Linked DNA regions of Homo sapiens: region 1 is linked to region 2. A link means that fine-mapping ties the variant in region 2 to the expression of a gene that starts in the linked region. Tissue or cell type: whole blood. Region 2 holds a variant in brackets; the other region holds the start of a gene. All regions are shown on one strand. Distances are from middle to middle.

Region 1 (10,347 bases), 48 kb after region 2:
GCACAGAAACCAGGGCTTTTTGGAGGCCTAGCAAAAAGATGACAAAATCAAATCAAGAGAATACTGAAGAACTATTCACCTAAAAAGTACTATTTAAAAAAACAAGTTGGGCCGGGCACGGTGGCTCACGCCTGTAATCCCAGCACTTTGGGAGGCTGAGGCAGGCGGATCACGGGGTCAGGAGATCGAGACCATCCTGGCTAACGCAGTGAAACCCCATCTCTACTAAAAATACAAAAACTAGCCGGGCATGGTGGCGGACGCCTGTAGTCCCAGCTACTCGGGAGGCTGAGGCAGGTGAATGGCGTGAACCCGGGAGGCAGAGCTCGCAGTGAGCCGAGATCGCGCCACTGCACTCCAGCCTGGGCGACAGAGCGAGACTCCGTCTCAAAAAAAAAAAAAACAAGTTGGATAAGTCTCTTGACTTGTTAAAACACTACAAGAGAGAAGTAAAAGTTGGGGGAAATGATTATGCTAGAAAAGAGCTGAGAAGCACTTACCGGGCGGAGTGAGAAAACAAGCATCCAGAAAGCCTTAGTCCTGGTGTCATTTCAGAAACTCTGAGGCTGTCCTGCTGCTGCTTTTCCAACCTGCTCCCTAACCACAGGTAATATTATCTCCATTTCCCCACTCTCAAAATGACCTACTCAGCGCCAACAACCTTCGCCTTCACTGCACGTAGCAAATTAATCGTCTTTTTTTTCTTTAACATTACAAGACATGCTTTACTTAGTATATAAATTTCTCAGTGTACATAAAATAGTATAATTATATTAAACAACCAGTCAGAATTACAACCACCGACCCAACTATGTCCTAATTCTTCATAACCACTGTGATGATGACTACACAATCCTGAGAAAACCTGCAGCAGAAACTAAGGTTGAAAACTAGTTTCTGAATACGTCTGAGTTACGCCTCTTATTTAGGCAACTATTTCATCCTTTTTGCTGTTTTTTAAAAACAATTTTTACTTGTAGAAAAAGTGTTTCTTCTCATTCTGTCCGAAGATAGAGAGATCCTATATTTTGCCATTTGGTATAAATCTCAATGTAAAATAGAGGTTTATTCTCAAATAGCATGTAAGTTACACGCTTTATGAGTCAAGAAATAAAAAACATCACTTTTCAAAAGAATTACTCAACAGAATTAATGGAGGTCAGGCTGAACAATGGTCACTACGCCTGGAAGTGGAAATAATCACTGCTGTTAGGAAACAGGCCTGGATGTCGTTTTTTCTTCACTCTCAAGGAAATGCATTAATGATCTCTGATATTAATCTGTTTATAAAATTTATACTAGACAGAAGAAGACCAATGGTCCATTCTTGACTTTTTTTTTTTTTTTTTTTGAGATGGAGTCTCGCTCTGTCGCCCAGGCTGGAGTGCAGTGGCGCAAACTCGGCTCACTACAAGCTCCGCCTCACCAGTTCACGCCATTCTCCTGCCTCAGCCTCACGAGTAGCTGGGACTATAGGCGCCCGCCACCACGCCCAGCTAATTTTTTGTATTTTTAGTAGAGATAGGGTTTCACTGCGTTAGCCAGGATGGTCTCGATCTCCTGACCTCGTGATCTACCCACCTCGGCCTTCCAAAGTGCTGGGATTACAGGCGTGAGCCACTGTGCCCGGCCCAGACATTTTCATTATGTGGAAGAGTTCCACCTGTGACATAATTTCAATAGTCTAACCTCCAAGCACAGCCTCCCAGTCTTCCTACTCTTTCTCTTGCTTACTTGCCAGCTCTTTCTTTTTTCATCGAGACTCCAGTCCCTTAGCTTTAACATTTTCTCCAATCCATCTGCTTCCTCTGACTCTATGGCAGTGGTTCTCAATTGGGGCTGATTTTGCCCCTCAGAAGACATTTGGCAACGTCTTGAGACATTTTTGATTATCACACTGGAGAGGTCTGCTACAGGCATCTAATAGGCAGAGACCAGAGATACTGCTAACATCCTACAATGCACAGGACAGCCCCCCACAGCAGAGAATTATAAATGTTTCAGAAGTAGAGACTCCCTGCTCTATGGTCTTCTTTTCTTTCTTTTTTTTTTTTTTTTAAAGACAGTGTCTCATCACTGTGTCTCCCAGGCTGGAGTGCAGTGGCGCCACCACAGCTCACTGCAGCCTCGACCTGCTGGGCTCAAGCTAATCCTTCCATCTCAGCCTCCCCCAAGTACCTGAGACTACAGGCATATGCCATCATGCCTGGCTAATTTTTGTATTTTTCGTAGTGGCAGGATTTCATCATGTTGCCCAGGCTGGTCTTGAACTCCTGGGCTCAAGGGATCCTCCTGCCTTGGGCTCCCAAGGTGCTGGGATGAGTGAGCCACAGTGCCCCCAGCCTCTATGGACATCTTTAGAATAACATAGTTCATTTCTTCAAACACTCTTGGAACATTTTAACCTCAAGTCTCTTGCTCTTTCATCCTTCTGACAGAACTTTTATAAAACCAAACCTTTAAGCAATGGAATCATCCACCTTCTGTACTTCTAAACTACTAAGCTCAACAAAAGCTGAATAAATATCACGATCACAAGAATATCTGACTCTAGATATTCATAGACTCCAACTTTGGTGGGACACCAACTTTCCTGGACAGGCAACCCTTCATGTTTCTCTCTAGTCTCCCCATCAAACCCTGTCCTTTTCCCTCAGTGATTATTCTAAACTTCTACCAACTTTCCTCAATCCCTATCCCAACAAATCAACGCAATGTCAGCAAATTCACCTGCTGCACTTAAGAACTTTTGCTCCATCACACAAGAACTTCCACACATTTCTTCCTCATCCCACACACTCACTCACGTCTGTGCCCACCCTTCTCCCCATCCCTCCCAGGAGAGTGGAAGAAGTGTCCCTCGTGCCCCGCATAGCCTGAAGGTGGCCTCTGCTCTGGAGATCGTCTTTTGGTGGCCTCTGGGACCTTGCTTCATCAATCATCCAGCCCTCTAAATCCTTGACCTCAGCATCTTCCTGTTTCCAAGCCCTTTCCACCTCACAAATGTGAATGTTCCAGTCTCTTCTTACAGGAAAAACCCACAAATGAACAAAACCCTCCCTTAAGTCCACATCTCCCTCTAACTCTTCTTTATCTCCTCACAGCCAAATTCCTTAGAAGAACTGTCCTCGACCGGGCACAGTGAGGTCAAAAATCTACTCGGCATCCTGAGTGTTTAAGAAGGCAAGAAATTGTGTAGTACATTTTTAAAATTTCCATCTCAAAGAGTCAATAAAATTTTCATTTCTAAAGAAGTATTAAGCTCTCAACTGTAAAATTACCCATTCCCTGAGGACTCCAAACAGCAGGGTTTTACTGCACAATCTTGTTTGCCATTTATCTCATTCTTAAAAATAAGGATGGTGTGTGTGTGTGTGTGTGTGTGTGTGTGTGTGCATGCGCGCACGCAGGAAGGATCACAAATTAAGCTTTCCAGGTGTTTTAACTCCAGGAATATGGGAACTTAACACAGTATTAAAGATATTAAAAAGTGTTAAATCATTTGTGTAGGTGAACAAACTCATAAAATTGTGTGCAACTATTGTAAAAAGCCTAAAATTTGAGCATTAGTAGAGTCCTTTAAGAAAAGTGCAGGCTTTGAAGTTATATTCAGACCTGAATTTAAATCTTGATTTTGCCATTTAGTTAACTGTGAATTTTTAGCAAGTCAATTTCATATAACCGAAACTCAATTTCCTTCTCTATAAATTGGGGGTAATAATTCCTAACTCACGAGGTGGTTGTATGAAGTAAGGAGAAAACATATGCAAAGTGTTGAACACAGTACCTGGGATAAAGCAGATGGGCCAACAGTAAGCAACTATTATTATACCCTAACCTTATTCTACTTTGTCCCCCAAATATTGGAAGAATCTAATCTTCCCAATTAGCAAGTCATTGGAAGGCTTCCCAGACTTATACGAAGCACAATATACACTATTCAAAAATGGAACAGACTAAAAGTATTTTAAAAATACAAAACCAAACAATCAATGAGATCAAGGATTTCAGAATTCTGCTTCTCGTCCCATATACTCAGCATCTATTCTGTCTGGTTTTGTAATAACCCATATTATTTCTTTATCAACCATATGAACCTTATTGTTGTTTTTTTGCGATCTAAACATCCCTAGCGGGTTATGTTACTTATTTTGAGGGCTACCTTTGCAAGGGTAATTGTCATCATTGCACGAAAACCAAAAAGAAATCAGGTACAAGGGGCATTTTATGCAATGCTATTAACTGTTCCATGCATCTCAACAGTGGATTGGATCCTAAGTGGATATTTTATTATCACAATAGATAATCATAATCACATTACTGTGCCACCCCCTCCCCGCCCATGCATGCGTTCATGAACAAAACTCCAGACTAACAGTATGAATGTTCTATAGGGACCCCAAAACTCAAAATGTGGTGCTCTCAGTAAAGATCCTCCGGGGGAAGAAGAGGCGGATGGGTTTCACTGCAAGTGGAAATGAATCGAATCGAAACTGTTCTGCCTACTTAAGACTGGAGATGAGCCCTGTGGGGCTAGAAGCCGAGACCGGCAGGTGACCGAGGGCCTGGAGGCAAGAGACGAAGGAGGAGGCACCCAGAGGCTGAGAAAGGTCTGTGCCGCCGGGGAGAAGACAGCCAGAGCCCGTGGCCACCTCTACAGCTGAGGTGGTAAGATGTGACCGCTCCGCCCAGTCCCCAGGATGGGTTTCAGCCCCAGGAGTCTGGGAGAACTGAGGAGGGGATGCGGGTCCTCGCTGGTCGAGCAAAAGTGAGGGTAAGGGAGGGTTCCCCGTCGCCTTCAGAACGGAATGATGCTGTCCCCGCCGCCATCCCGACGCCGGAGGAGAGGAAGGCAGGGACCCAACAGGGAGCGAACAGGTTACCTGTCTCAGCCGCGTCCCACGGGTCACCACTTCCGCAGACTCGGGGTTACTACGGGCTACCCCGGCACGCGCCGGGTGACGTCATCCACACGCGCCCGGGGCCGCATTCTGCCTGACCCGCCTTCCGCTAGGCCCGCCCCCTTAGGATGAGAGGGCGAGACCGCCCGGGGGAGATCTGCGCAGGCGCGGAGCTGCCGCGGTCATAGGAGGGCGCGAGCAGCTTGGCTGGCTAGGGCTTGTAGAGTTGCCCTGGTACCCTAGTATTCCTAATTGCAAAATCTTTATGAAGCTTAAGAAAAAAATCACCAGCCTGGGCAACCTGGGGAGGCCCCGTCTCTACAAAAAAATTAAAAAATTAGCCGAGTGTGGTGGCGTGCACCTGTGGTCCAGCTACTATGGAGGCTGAGGCAGGAGGATTGCTTAGGTCCAGGAGTTCGAGGCTGCAATGAGCTATGAACGTGCCACTACACTCCACCCTGAGCCACAGAGCAAGACCCTGTTTCAAATAAAATTTAAAAAAAGTTACTGAAATACAGATGTGCAATTTTATTCCTTAGCCTAGTCTCACCTCTGCTGCATGTGACTATTGTTCACATATTAATTCCACCACAATTTAAGGTCCTCCTGTGTGCCAGGCAAGCACCCTTAACAAAAGCTGGGGAAACAACCAGGAACAAGACAGACGCTGTGCCTTCCCTCATGGGGATTACTTTCTAGTTGAGAAAGCAAACATTAAATGTAGAAGGAAAGGCCGGGCGCGGTGGCTCACGCTTGTAATCCCAGCACTTTGGGAGGCCGAGGCAGGCGGATCACAAAGTCAGGAGATCGAGACCATCCTGGCTAACACGGTGAAACCCCGTCTCTACTAAAAATACAAAAAATTAGCCGGGCGAGGTGGTGGGCGCCTGTAGTCCCAGCTACTCGGGAGGCTGAGGCAGGAGAATGGCGGGAACCCCGGGGGGCGGAGCCTGCAGTGAGCCGAGATCGCGCCACTGCACTCCAACCTGGGCGACAGCGAGACTCCATCTCAAAAAAAAAAAAAAAAGTAGAAGGAAAATAAGTTGCTGAGAAATTAAAGGAAGACAGGTGACCTTTTGATTTGAGATGTCAAGAAAGTGCCCTCTGAAGAGGTTCAGTAAACTGAGAAGCAGCCAACTCTGTGGAGAGCTAAGGAAAGAACAGCCAAGAGAAGAATCTACATGTGAGCAAGCAATAGGGAAGGGGCAGAATGTGGTGCCTTGGAGAAAGTGAGAAAGTAGGTCATGGGAAGAACAGAGGATGAGATCAAGAAGGCAAGGAGAGTCCCCATCATGCACAGACTCTCTGGGTTCCTGTGAGGAATACGAGTTTATTCGAAGTGTAAGGGGAAACTAGTGAAGAGTTATCAACACGTAAGTGACAGGATCTAGTTTTATAACATCACCCTGCTAGCTGCTGTGTATACATGAAACTTTTGAGAAACAATTTAAAAGGATGCAAAGAGAAGAGTTGCTTTTGCAATGAGCAGGTAAGAAATGATAGAAATGGACAAATTTCAGGAATAATTCTGAGGTAGATGTGACAGACTTGGAGATGAGTTTAGATAAGGGAGATAAGGAAAAGAAAAGTGTCAAAAATAATTCTTAAATTTGGGGCCTAAGCAAATAGCTGGATCATATAGCTAAAACAAGGTTTGTTTCACCTCCTTTCAAACTTGATTTCTTTGCTTGTTTCCAAGTCAGTCCTCTAGGTTCTCCTGTCACCTATCTTTCCTCAGTTTCTATCACTGGCTTCCACTTTCCCTTTTCCTGAGCTCTTTTTTCCCTTGGCTTTCTTAGGCTCCATCAGAGGCTGCAAACCCCAAAGCCTACAGCAGCCGGGCAGTTAACACAAAGGAGTGAAGCCCAGGGATAGAGACTGTGGTGATCTGGAGCTCGTGGTCCCTACCACAGCTCTGTTGATTTTTGCCAACCAGGAATGCTGACCCGGTGATGTCAGATCCCCTGCTTAAAAGATAATCGAGGGCCGGGTATGGTGACTCACGCCTGTAATCCTAGAACTTTGGGAGACTGAGGCGGGCAGATCACAAGGTCAGGAGTTCAAGACCAGCCTGACCAATAAGGTGAAACCCTGTCTCTACTAAAAATACAAAAATTAGCCGGGCGTGGTGGTGGGTGCCTGTAATCCCAGCTACCCAGGAGGCTGAGGCAAGAGAATCGCTTGAACCCAGGAGGCAGAGGTTGCAGTGAGTCAACATCACGCCACTGTGCTCCAGCCTGGGTGACAAAGTGAGACTCCATCTCAAAAAAAAAAAAAGAAAAAGAAAAAAAAACACCAATCGATATACAGATATTTACATGAAATCTCACAAATTTTAAACATTGCTCACTAATTCACATTTTATTAAACTTCTGTTTTGGACCAAACAAAACACATCTGCTGTCCATATGAGGCCTGCAGGCCTGCACAAACTTTGCCTCCTTGATGTGTATTTTCCCAGGGTGGTGACTTTGTCTCTTGTCAGGTGACTACCACCTGTAAGTTTGTAAGCTGACAATTCCCAAGTCTATCTTTCCATTCAGACCTGTTTAAAAATTTCTTATTCAGGCCGGGTGCGGTGGCTCATGCCTGTAATCCCAATGCTTTGGGAGGCCAAGGCGGGAGGATCACCTGAGGTCAGGAGTTCGAGACCATCCTGGCCAACATGGTGAAACCCCGTCTCTACTAAAAATACAAAAATTAGCTGGGCGTGGTGGCATGCACCTGTAATCCCAGCTACTTGGGAGGCTGAGGCAGGAGAATGGTTTGAACCTGGGAGACGGAGGTTGCAGTAAGCTGAGATCATGCCATTGCATTCCAGCCTGGGCTACAGGGCGAGACTCTGTCTCAAAAAAAAAAAAAAAAAAAAAAAAAAAACTTATTCAAATATCCAGATTCCACTTAAACATCGGGCTAGCATTTAAAAACCTGAACTCGTCCTCTGTCCCCACCTCCAAACCTGACCTACTCATGTATTTTTGTCTGAGTTAATAGCATCAATATCCACCCAGTCACCCAAGCCTGAAATCCAAGATCATCCTAGACTTGTCCCTCTTTGTCATCCCACAGTCCAATCAGTATTTATCACACCTGCTCATCACCTCCATCCTTAATAACTCTTGCACTGGCTCAAGACTTCATCTTTCTTGGGAAACCTCAGTTTTCTCACTTATAAAATGAGAAGATGGAACTAGAAGATTCCTAAGATGTATTTATTTCCATCTTTATAGCCACCAAACATGTCAGAATAGTTGCCTGGAATTTGGGGTTTTATCTCATTGGGTTTTTTGTTGTTGTTATTTTGCCTGGCTATTGTTATGCCAAGGATATTGTGACCAGGTTGACAGGGAAAACTGGACTTGATAGAAATAAATACAAAATGAAATTAACAGTGGCCAAAACTGAACACAATTTAGTTATAAAATTAAAACTGACTGAAAAATAACTGCTGATTGGTAACATTGAAAACAGGAAAAATTGGCCGGGCGCGGTGGCTCACGCCTGTAATCCCAGCACTTTGGGAGGCCGAGGCGGGCGGATTACGAGATCAGGAGATCAAGACCATCCTGGCTAACACGGTGAAACCTCATCTCTCCTAAAAATACAAAAAAAAATTAGCCAGGCGTGGTGGCAGGCACCTGTAGTCCCAGCTGCTCAGGAGGCTGAGACAGGAGAATGGCGTGAACCCGGGAGGCGGAGCTTGCAGTGAGCCGAGATCGCGCGACTGCATTCCAGCTGGGCGACAGAGCAAGGCTCCATTTCAAAAAAAAAAAGAAAAGAAAACTGGAAAAATTGAGAAAAACAGACATGGTAAAATGTGTCACTTATTTTAAATTGATGAAAAAATCAATAAAATCTTTTTGACAAGATTTAGATCTACAAAGTTTCAGCGGAAAAACAACTGGTCTTGGTTAATTAACCACAAAAGAAAACTCATAATGTCAGAAACTCTAATGACTATAATTTGTCATGAAGTCAAAAAATAATGCTAAATTGTAACTTCAATGGGAAGCTTACATGTAAAAGAACTGGAAATGATTCCAGTGAAAATAATTCTAGTGAAGTAGAAAAATGAGAAACAGTTATATAAATGTTATATAACAGTTTGTATGTAATATAAAATTTAAAACATAAAATATTAAAATGAATTTTTTATAAATTTACAAAATGAAATTTGCTCCAGGACATACTTTTATTGATGCAAATCATTGATGCAAATATAATTTTGATTTAAATGTTTGTGTTTATATATACAAAATCAACACCTCATGGAGTCAAAGTGACATGAGTCAACATCTTGTATTCATTTGGTTACTCCTGAGAATACTAAGTGTTCCACTTGCAAAACTTACATTGATGAGTATTCATGTCGCAAGCAGAGATATACCCCTAAGGTCTGGGCTTAGGAATGTGTACTCCCTAGTGGATATGATTTTCATTAATGGGTTGAGATATGATTTTCATTAGTGACTTTTTTCCCCTCTGATGCTGTCAGCTCCATGAAATCTACTCATATCCTCACCGAGATTTAGTGCATTGGATTAAAGTTCAAAGAATTTCTGACAGAATTAGCCCAGATGAACTAAGTTCAATAGAGGAGAGGATGACAGAGATTGCTGGCCGGTCCTCAATATCCAGTTGTTGTTGTTGTTATTTTATTGTTGTTGTTTCATAATACTAGAACGCTCACATTCTAGGTAATAAAATATCTTTATCTAATTCTAACATGGCCACCCAGAAGAAAGACAACATTTTTCAGCCTCCCTTGCAGCTAGCTGTGGCCCTGTGACTATGCACTGGGTAATGGCTGTAAGAGAAAGTATCATGTAGCAAGGTGTGGCAACCATCCTTACCAAACAGATAAGACAAAAGTTTGTCTTCTTTTTTTCCATCATCCTTCCTTTTGATTGAAATGCAGATGTGTTGGCTTGTCTAGGTAGCCATTTTAGATCATAATTCAACCCTCAGAGCATTAGAGGAAAGCAGCAAGATAGAAAGAGTTCGGTCCCTGAGGACTTCGTGGACAGAGCTACCACATAAGTTGCACTTTAACCAAGATAAATAAGCTGCACTTTCATTTAAGTCACTTTATTTTGGGTCTATGTCTTCCACCAAATCTAATTCTAACTGAATCTAACTGAAGGACTAGGAGTCAAAAGAAAAATACACAGTAAAGACATTTGCAAACTTCACCCAGACTGAAACTGTCTTTGCAAAGATTATGACAGTGGGAGAAATCTAGCATGGTTGACTCCATCTTGCTTCCAGCCTCACAGGCTGGCTGTCTTTGCTCACTCCTGGGTGTAGGCCAAGCTAACCATGGGAGGAATTTATAGTTGAGCTTCGAAGCAAAGATGGTCCCTCAAAGTCCTCTTTGTTCAGAGACTGAAACTGCCTTTGTACAACTAACAAAAGGCCACTAGGTTAGGATTGTGGAAGGGGCCTT
Region 2 (10,347 bases):
AAAGACAATGGCCATGATCCAATAAAACTTTATTTACAAAAACAGGCAGTGGACTAGATTTAGCCAGCAGGCCATAGTTTTCTGACCCCTAAAATCATCCAGATGTGAGTACTGCCAAATGATTTCAGAGTTCCCATCTGTATTAGTGTATATGATTGCATGGGGACGTGTAGGACTGCGATAATTATCAAGAGATAATGAGAAAAGAACATAAGGATGATGCTTTTGGCTGAGTAAAGGCCAAACGATATCACAGCATGCTGTGTAAACAAAAGTTTACAGGGAGATGAAAGACAAGTGGTGGAGAACTGGATTATTTTGTGGCTCAGGGTAGAACAGGTGTTCAGTCTCAAAAGAAACTGCATGGAGCCGTCAGCACCATATTCATATTGTAAGGGGCAATTTCATCTCAGCAAAATATTAATATTTATATTCAATTTATATTTATATATTTATATCAATATAAAATTCAAATTATAAATTATAAATTTGAATTTTATTGATTTGCTAGTTTGATCTGCATTTCATTTATAATTTTATTTTGGCTTTACGGATGTGTAAGAGTTGTAAGAACACAGAGTTCATATCTAGTCTTAGATCTATAGTTTTTGAAATGTCATTCTAATATAAATAATTTAGGTCAACTGTGGTAAATCATGAGACCTTTCCCTCTAAAAAGAAGAATAATGCTCAAGTTTGGGAAACATTGTCAAACACAAGGCTTTACTGCAGGGCCAAACCATGAATGAGAAAATATGTAGGCTTGGTGAGGTGAGGGTGGGGAGAGCCACATGGCATCTTGGGAGGTGGAGTTATCACAAGCACACTGCTATAGGCAGAAATGTGAGTAGGCCACCTATCAGTGCCTATCTGAAATTGCAGTGTTTCATATACTCAATCAATTCAGCAAGTCAGGGAACCAAACAGAGACAACAGAGAAAAAGCCTATGTGAGTCTAGCAGAACCTGACTGGACAATTGCCAGCAAGACACTAGAGCCCAGATAAAGAAGCTGCGTGTATCTGCCAACCCCTTTAATCCAGTCAAGTTGACACCTAAAATTAACCACCGCACATATACAATAAATGTGTACTTTTTTTTTTTTTTAGACAGTATCATTCTGTCACCCACGCTGAAGTGCAGTGGTGTGATCTCAGCTCACTGCAACCTCTGCCTCCCTGGTTCAAGCAATTCTCTTGCCTCAGCCTCCTGAGTAAATGGGATTACAGCCGTGTACCACCACGCCCAGCTAATTTTTTTGTATTTTTGTAGAGACGGGGTTTCACTATGTTGCCCAGGCTGGTCTTGAACTCCTGGCCTCAAGTGATCCGCCCATCTTGGCCTCTCAAAGTGTTGGGATTACAGGTGTGAGCCACCACGCCTGGCCATAAATGTGTACATCTTAAATGTGTTGTTCAATGAGATTTCACAGATAAACACACTTACATAATCATTACCCCCATGAACATTTCCATTACCCCAGAAATTCCGCTGTACCCTTGCACTCATTTCTTCCTAACCCCATTCCAGCCAACCACTGATCTGGTTTCCATCAGTACAGACTGGTTTGACTTCTTCTCAAAATTCATATAAAAAGGGTCATTCAGTGTGACTCTATTTTACTCAGCATAATGTTTGTGAGATTCATCCATATTGTTGCAGGTGTCACTAGCTATTTTTTTTTTTTTTGATTTATCAGTAGTGGTCCATTGTGTGAATAAACCATAATTTGTTTATCCATCTACAGTTAGACTGTTTTTGGTCATTATGGAAAATGTGCTGTGAACAATCAGGTATTAATCGTTTTGTGGACGTAGGTTTTCATTTCTCTTGGGTAAATACTCAAGAGTAAAATTGCTAGATCGTGTAAATATATGTTTAAGTTTGTGAGTATCTGCCAAACTATTTCCAAAGTGGTTGCATTCTTTCATACTCTCACCAGCAATGTATGAGAGTTCTAGTTGTGGCTTATCCTTGGAAACACTTGGTATTTTCTGTCCTTTTAATTTTAGCCCTCTAACTAGGTGTAAAATACTATCTCATTATGGTTTTAATTTGCATTTCCCTGATGACGATGTTGAGCACCTTTTCATTTACTTTGCACATTCTTATATCTTCTTTTGAAAAGCATCTGTTCATGTCATTTGCTCATTTTCTTTCATGTGGGGTTTTTTATTGTTTTATTATTAGGTTATAAGAATACTTTATAGGCCAGGCACGGTGGCTCACACCTGTAATCCCAGCACTTTGGGAGGCCGAGGCAGGTGGATCACTGAAGGTCAGGAGTTCAAGACCAGCCTGGTAAACATGGTGAAACCCTGTCTCTACTAAGAATACAAAAATTAGCTGGGCATGGTGGTGCATGCCTGTAATCCCAGCTGCTCGGTGAGAGAATCGCTTGAGCCCGGGAAGCAGAGGTTGCAGTGAGCTGAGATCGCGCCACTGTACTCCAGCCTGGACAATAGAATGAGACACTGTCTCAAAAAAAAAAAAAAAAAAAAAAAAAAGATTATATAATTCTAGGTACAAGCCTTTTGCCAGATATATGTATTACAAATACATCCGGTATATGTGGCTTGCCTTTTCATTTTTATTTACACTTCGTCCTACTGATTTTCCATAGTGACATTTTTGTTCCTAATTTCAGCAGTAGAGATTTACATTATGTTATTTTAACATTAGTTTTCTTTTTTTTTTTTTTGAGATGGAGTCTCGCTCTGTCGCCCAGACTGGAGTGCAGTGGCACGATCTCAGCTCACTGCAAGCTCCGCCTCCCGGGTTCACGCCATTCTCCTGCCTCAGCCTCCGGAGTAGCTGGGACTACGGGCACCCACCACCACGCCCGGCTAATTTTTTGTATTTTTAGTAGAGACTGGGTTTCACCGTGTTAGCCAGGATGGTCTCAATCTCCTGACCTCATGATCCGTCCCTCGGCCTCCCGAAGTGCTGGGATTACAGGCGTGAGCCACCCCGCCCAGCCTTAACATTAGTTTTCTGTCAATCATTCAAATGAATGTCAATCATTCATTTTAAAAAATTTTCCTTCAAGAATGTTATACTTCAGTTAATAGGGCTGCTACAAATAAAAATATTAAAAAAAAGAATGTTATACCTAGCCAAGGATTGTTCATAAGTGAATACAACAAAAAGCCAATCTAAATATGGGAGGGCTCAGAAAATGTACCATTCATCCAGTCTTCTAAAAAAAAAAAAAAAATGAAGCTATTTCCCAGCCAACTTAAGAGCTCAAGAATGAAGAAAGTCTAAATACTTATTATGAAATCATTTGAAACTGAATGAAAATACAATAATAGTAATTCCTAGAAAATACATAATACAAAAAGTTATAGAGAAAATGTGAGTCCCAAATCCCAAGTTTTATTAAGTAAAACTGGAGAATATGGGTGCGGAAGGATAATGGAGTAAATACCCATCCAATTCCTTATTTGATATGAATTCCAGAGATATTGGTTAACTAAATTGTAAAACATCCATTTATAGGATACTCATAGCCATAACATAATGAGGAAAGGTCGGGCGCAGTGGCTCATGCCTGTAATCTTAGCACTTTGGGAGGCCGAGGCGAGTGGACTGCCTTAGCTCAGGAGTTCGAGCCCAGCCTGGGCAACACAGTGAAACCCCATCTCTACTAAAATACAAAACATTAGCCAGGCATGGCGGCGTGCGCCTGTAGTCCCAGCTACTCGGGAGGCTGAGGCAGGAGAAATGCTTGAACCCGGAAAGCAGAGGTTGCAGTGAGCCGAGATCACGCCACTGCACTCCAGCCTGGTGACAGAGCAAGACTCCGTCTCCAAAAAACAAATAATAATAATAAATAAATAATGAGGATACTCTTTACGCTCTGTTACAAAATATCTATAAAATAAATTTATTCTAAAAGGGAAAGCACAATACAAAAATGTGTCTAGCATGCTACAATTTGTACAACAAAAGAGAAAAAACATATTATTCAAGAGAAATTGGTAACCTTGGTTGCCTGGGGAAGTGTTACTGGATGTCTGGGAAATAGAGGTAAGAAAAACACGTTATTGCACATAATGCTTTGTCCTTTGTTCTTCTATAAATGAACCACGTAAATGTTACTTATTTTTAAATATAAAAATTTTATTTTATTTATTTATTTATTTATTTTTGAGATGGAGTCTCACTCTGTCACCCAGGCTGGAGTGCAGTGGCGTGATCTCGGCTCACTGCAAGCCCCGGATTCACACCATTCTCCCGCCTCAGCCTCCCGAGTAGCTGGGATTACAGGCGCCCGCCACCACGCCTGACTAATTTTTTGTTTGTTTGTTTATATTTTTAGTAGAGATGGGGTTTCACCGTGTTAGCCAGAATGGTCTCGATCTCCTGATATCATGATCCGCCCACCTGGGCCTCCAAAAGTGCTGGGATTACAGGCGTGAGCCACTGTCCCAGCCTAAATGTGTTGTTTTTAAGAATCAAGTAAGGCTGGGCGCAGTGGCTCACACCTGTAATTGCAGCACTTTGGGAGGCTTAGGCGGGCAGATCACGAGGTCAAGAGATCAAGACCATCCTGGCCAACATGGTGAAACCCTGTCTCTACTAAAAATACAAAAATTAGTTGGGCATGGTGGTGTATGCCTGTAGTCCCAGCTACTGGGGAGGCCGAGACAGAATCGCCTGAACCCGGGAGGCAGAGGTTGCAGTGAGCAGAGATCGCGCCATTGCACTCCAGCCTGGCGACAGAGCAAGACTCTGTCTCAAAAAAAAAAAAAAATCAAGTAAATACTCATCGGTGACTTCAGTACATACGTTAATCTAGCTTATGATAAAGACATCACAAAATTTAAAAATTCAATAAATGATCCTGAAGCAACTGGTTTTCTATTTGAAAAAAAAAGACAATGTTTAGTCCTCATTTCACAACCTGATGAGAATAAATTACAGACTGATTAAAGAGTTATAAAAATTAAACTATAAAAATATCAGAACAAAATGAATCTTAGAGAAATCTAATAAATTTAACTTCATAAAAAGACACATCATATAAAATTAAAAGATATACCAAAAGCTGGGAGCAATGCTTTTCATAAATATAAGAAATTAATATCTTTTTTTAAAGAGCCAATAAAATTGAAAAATAAGACAAATGGCAAAAATCTAGGTCTTCAGTATAAAAAATGGGCAAAGGAAATAAACAGAAAATGAAAATGGTTAAGAAACATATAAGGACATGTGAAACTCACTAATCATCAAAGTAATCCAATTAAAGAGAGACCTGCTGCTGCCTATCAGATGAGCAAAGTTCCAGGTGACAAGGACCCTCATAACTACAGATGAATGTATAAATTGGCACAGCCTTTCTGGAAAACATTATGGGATATGTACCAACAACCTTAAACATGTTCCAACTTTTGACTCAGTAATTCTAATTTTATATAAAATGTCTCCCCTGGAATTTAATGCAACTTTATTTATAACAGGAAAAAAACTGAAATAATCAAAATATTTAATATAGAAATGTTAAATTCTGATATATTCAGATAAAAAATATTGTGCCAATGTTAAAATCATATTAAAAATATTTAACGACCTGTAAATTGTTCAAGATACACTATAAGTGAAAAAGGCAGAATAAACACCATCATATGCTATCACAATTTGAGGATGATAACTGCACAAAACATATAGATTTTAAATACTGAAAGGAAATGTAACAAAATCTTAGCGATAATTTTCTCTATAATTTTTTTAATTTATTTTTAGTTTTCTGTATATTTTAAAGTTTCTATAATAAATATGTGGAAGGAGATGCCCTTTTTTTTTTTTTTTTTTTTT[TG/G]AGATGGAGTCTCACTCTGTCGCCCAGGCTGGAGTGCAGTGGCGCCATCTCAGCTCACTGCAAGCTCCATCTCCCAGGTTCACGCCATTCTCCTGCCTCAGCCTCCCGAGTAGCTGGGACGACAGGCAACCGCCCCCACGCCCGGCTAATTTTTTGTATTTTTAGTAGAGACGAGATTTCACCGTGTTAGCCAGGATGGTCTCAAAGGAGATGCCATATTTTAAATAAAGAAATAATATAACTATAAAAATGTTTCCTGGCCAGGCACAGTGGCTCACACCTTTGGGAGGCTGAGGTAGACAGATCACTTGAACCTGGGCATTCAAGACCAGCCTGGGCAACATGGCAAAATCTCATGTCTACAAAAAAAGTGCAAAAATTAGCTGGGCGTGGTAGCATGCACTTGTAGTTCCACCTACTTGGCAGGATGAGGTGGGAGGATCAATTGAGGCTGGCAGGTCAAGGCCACGGTGAGCCGTTATCAAGCCATTGCACTCCAGCCCGGGCAACAGAGCGAGACCCTGTCTCTCAAATAAACAAATTTTTTCCTGGCATCAACATGCTCAGGATCTCCACTGAAAAAGTTAAATGCTGCAATAAGAAGTAATTCATAGATAAAACCTTGATGATGCATTAGCACTGCCTTCCATCTTTCTTATACACCTTTGGTTCAGAACTTTACACAGGCAAACCATGTGTAGAAAAGATGCTTCATTAAGACAACTCCAGTGGGCCAGCCAACAAGAGCACTATCTCTTAACATAATGAATAACCATGTACAGACACCATAACAAATCACAGACAACTCAACTCTAATGGTGTTTCCATGGTACACCTGCCTGTTCAGAACGTCTTCAGTCAAGACCACCTACTTATGGCCTACAAACCACCAGGTGAAAGCAACTGCTGAAATAGTCTATGAACCGACAACTCTAGTATGAAGAGCCCCAAATCCCATGCCCAGGCTCCTAAGTGTCCCTCCCCATCCCCTGCTTGTTTTCCCTGGCAGGATGTTTTATACTATGATCATTTCCAACCCAACTAATAAAGGAGCTCTTTAAAGTTTAGAAAAATACTGTTTATTGGGTTCCTGGGTCCACATGTGTGCAATACATAAATAAGCAAAGAACACATGTACAGTACCTTCCCAAAGCTGCGTTGGTTTGGCAGAATTTTCCCCACTCATTAAAACAACAAAAGATGCAGCTGCTCGAACTGTAGCCTGCCATGTTGACATGGCAACGGGTGGCTCCTGGCATGGAAAAAGGGCCCTGTTGTTTATGGGAGATCCCACAGTATAAACACATGGCCTGCAGAAGAGAGACAAAGAAAGAAAGGGGGTGAATCTTTAAAATGAGTTGTCACTTTTCTCACCAGTATGGTAGTGCAGGTTAAGTTGAGCTTTCAAAGAAAACATTTGAAACTTTGTAGTTGACTGGTTTCCTAGCATTTTGAACTGAAGCTGCCAAGGGCTGGCTATGTGAATAGCTGAGTGGTTACTTCTCTCAGATGAATTACTTAAATATGTAAAAAGAGTTGGTTTATTTAAGGAGAAAAATATTTTTTGGATAAAGTTTTAAATACTAATCGGCCAAGTTATATTACCCTTGCCCCCTCCCCTCAGGCCCTGGTGCCTTCAAAAGAAAATTTTTAGAGACATTCTTACAAATCTTTTGGAAAGTATTCTGGAAAAGAAAATATGTTTGGAGATCACTGAGATATTAATGCTTGGAAAAACAAGCTGGTGGTCTCAAATCCAGGGCTGGCAGGCAGATACCCCCAATCTTGGAAGCCACCATCTCAAATAGAACCCTTGTGGGAATCCTTGTGTGGAGGCCAAGAACAGGGGCTGGCATATGAACAGGACTGTGGGTCACAACAACCAGGCTTGTGATGGGAAAGCCAAGGGCGCAGAGTCGTTACCAAGTCACCATGTGCAAAACCAATGACACAGCATTAGGACTCATTCTGCTGCGATTAGAAAGTACAGCCCTACCCAAACCAAGAAAGATCTGTCCCATGATAAAGTCATGGTTGACAAAGATAAAGATTCTCAAGATCAAAGGGTCCACTCTTGACACCAGAGTAGAAGGAACAAGACTGACTCCTCATAAAAAACTCAGGAGAATGTTTCTACTTTCTGTTTTTCAGTTATGACAAATGACAAATATGTAGTTTTAGTCAGCTTGACTTATAAAGTAAATGAATAGAGCAAAGCACTACTTCTTTTGGATAAACTCATTTTCTTTTTTCATTAACATCATTATAATTGAGCATTTATTGTGTTCACACAGTGTGCGAGAAAACACAGAAAGATGGTTCAACTCCATCAGTCAGGGTCTAGTATGGAAAAGAGAAACCAGTCTAGGTCTTAACAAACAGGTAATTTAAACTCGGGAATGAGTTTAAATGATAGAAGAGCGGAGAGACCAATCAGAGGACAGTAAGACAACCCAGGGATTAGCCACAGCAGTAATCAGCTGTGACTCCTCATATTGGAGGAGCTGGGTGATTACTGGGTTATGAGGCAGGAGTCATCTGGCAGAAGCCAGAGTCACAGTGGGGACTGTCCAGGGGGAGCTGGGACCACAGGAGACTCAACCACACTGAAGGGGCCAAAGGAAAACAGGAGGAGGAGAAATACGTTACAGAAGTAACGTATTTCTAGCCAGCTCCTGCTTTCAAATCTTCCACCAGTGGCCCCCACTGGCCAAACCTAGCAGGAAGCCAGAAGACAAGAGAGCCTAGGAAATGAAGTTCCTTGTCACTTGGAGAAGATCACAATAAGAGCAGAAAATGGATCTCAGCGCAAACAGGCAGTTGCTGTACGCTTATCCTACAAGTATACATGCCATGATAATGTGAAGGTTTGACATGGGGCAGGGAAAGATCAGAAAGTCTAAACACCTTTGTACCACCTGGGTTGCCAACTTACCAAATGACTGTGGGGAAGCTCCTCAACTTCTGAGTCACGGGTGAAATGGGTATTGGGCTGGTGAAGCGGGGAGCAGGTAGTGACTTCTATTGTCTGTTCTGTTCAATAAGCACCTAATTTGCATAGGGTAACTCTGTGTTATGGGTCTTCCCTTGCCTGCACAGGGAAGAAATCCTCCCCAAAAGACTGGCTTACCAAGATGTTGGTCTCCTCTCTATAAGGCTGGGTTGGAGGCCATGCTAGCATATTATTACACATTCCACTTGTGCCCTTAGGTATGTGGCCCCCAAGGCTGCCTCCATCAGCTTCCATACCACTTCCCCAAAGAAACAATCGGATTTGAGATGAGGTCAAATCTGAGAAATACTGTGCAGGAAGAATCAGGACTTAGTAAGTGATGTGCTGAAGAAGAGGGAGAAGGAAAGGAAGACTTCTGTGAAGTAGCCAGCTGCTGAGCTGGCCTCCAATATTTACAACCCCTTACTCCTAATATTTACATCGTTGTGTAGTCCCCTTCCATACTGTACCAGATCTGTGTGCCCAAACAGACCTGTGTAGAGCAAACAGGCAGTTGCAGTACACTTATTCTACAAGTATACAGGCCGTGATAATGCAAAGGTTTGACCTGGGACAGGGATGCAACAGGATACAGCAGAGGTGACGGCATGTCACTTCTGAGACTATTTTAAAATCTGTGGTTTTTATCTTAGACTATCTTTTCTCACTCTCTCTCCCATCATTTACTCTGGGCCATGAGTGTCATGAAGTCACTCAGGCAGCCTAGGGAGGCACCCACATGGTAAGAAACAGAGACCTTTGGCCAACAGTCAGTGAGGAACCAAAGCCTGCAACAGCCACGCGAGTGAGTCTGAAAGAGGATTTTCCAGCTCCTGGCACACCTTGAGACACCTGCAGCCCCGGCCAACAGCTGGACTGTAACCTTGCAAGATATTTTGAGCAAGAGACACCGGCTAAGCTGCTCCTAGATTCCCGAGCCTCAGAAACTGTGAGAGGTAATAAATGTTTGTTCTTTTAAACTGCTAAGTGTGGGGGTAATTTGTTGTGCAGCCATAGTTAACACAGACTTTTCTGAGGTTTCTGGCTCAAGTGATAAGATGGATGGCAAAGCTACTGAACAAGAAAGGAAGAACAGGATGGGTCCAGGGAGAAAGGTGGAGGGCATGCACCTGTTTAATTTGCTTATAAAGGGCTTTACATAAGCACATGACAGACGACACTTTTATGGACACAGAAAGGATGTTTTCCTAATCCCAGTGTGGTGTCCATGAATGGGTTCAAATGTCTGAAATCAGACCTGCCTCAGAAAATGTGAAAATGATGATTTGATGAAGTAGGACGCATAGATATTGTAGGCATATTTGAGTCAGTCGATGGGGGGCTGGTCCTTCCACCAACTGGATTAAAATCCACCATGTTGTCACCATCCTTTCCTTCCCAGTTCAGTATTATGTCCTCTTTAGCTATCTAGTTCTAGACATTTTGTTCTAGAATTTTGTCCTGATCCCTTCTGTCACGCTCTTGAAAGCTCTTTCTGCCATTGTGCATCTGGGCACCTGACCTCTTCCATCAAG

What was found. PIP is the estimated chance that this variant, and not a neighbour inherited with it, causes the effect.
Region 1: AOPEP starts here. The variant in region 2 is fine-mapped to the expression of AOPEP in whole blood (INTERVAL, PIP 0.91).

The regions. Positions count from the first base shown.
Region 1 is chr9:94,721,288-94,731,634 of GRCh38, reverse strand. It overlaps AOPEP (aminopeptidase O (putative)), which reads right to left and starts at 4,936. Exons shown (of 17, transcript NM_001193329.3): 1 at 4,884-4,936. RefSeq lists enhancers at 4,665-5,144, 4,667-5,209, 5,155-5,324, 10,019-10,347.
Region 2 is chr9:94,769,785-94,780,131 of GRCh38, reverse strand. It overlaps AOPEP (aminopeptidase O (putative)), which reads right to left. Exons shown (of 17, transcript NM_001193329.3): 3 at 6,964-7,130. Among named protein-coding and RNA genes, the nearest start is that of MIR2278, 35 kb to the left of the region's middle. The variant TG/G (reference allele first, on the strand shown) is at 5,820.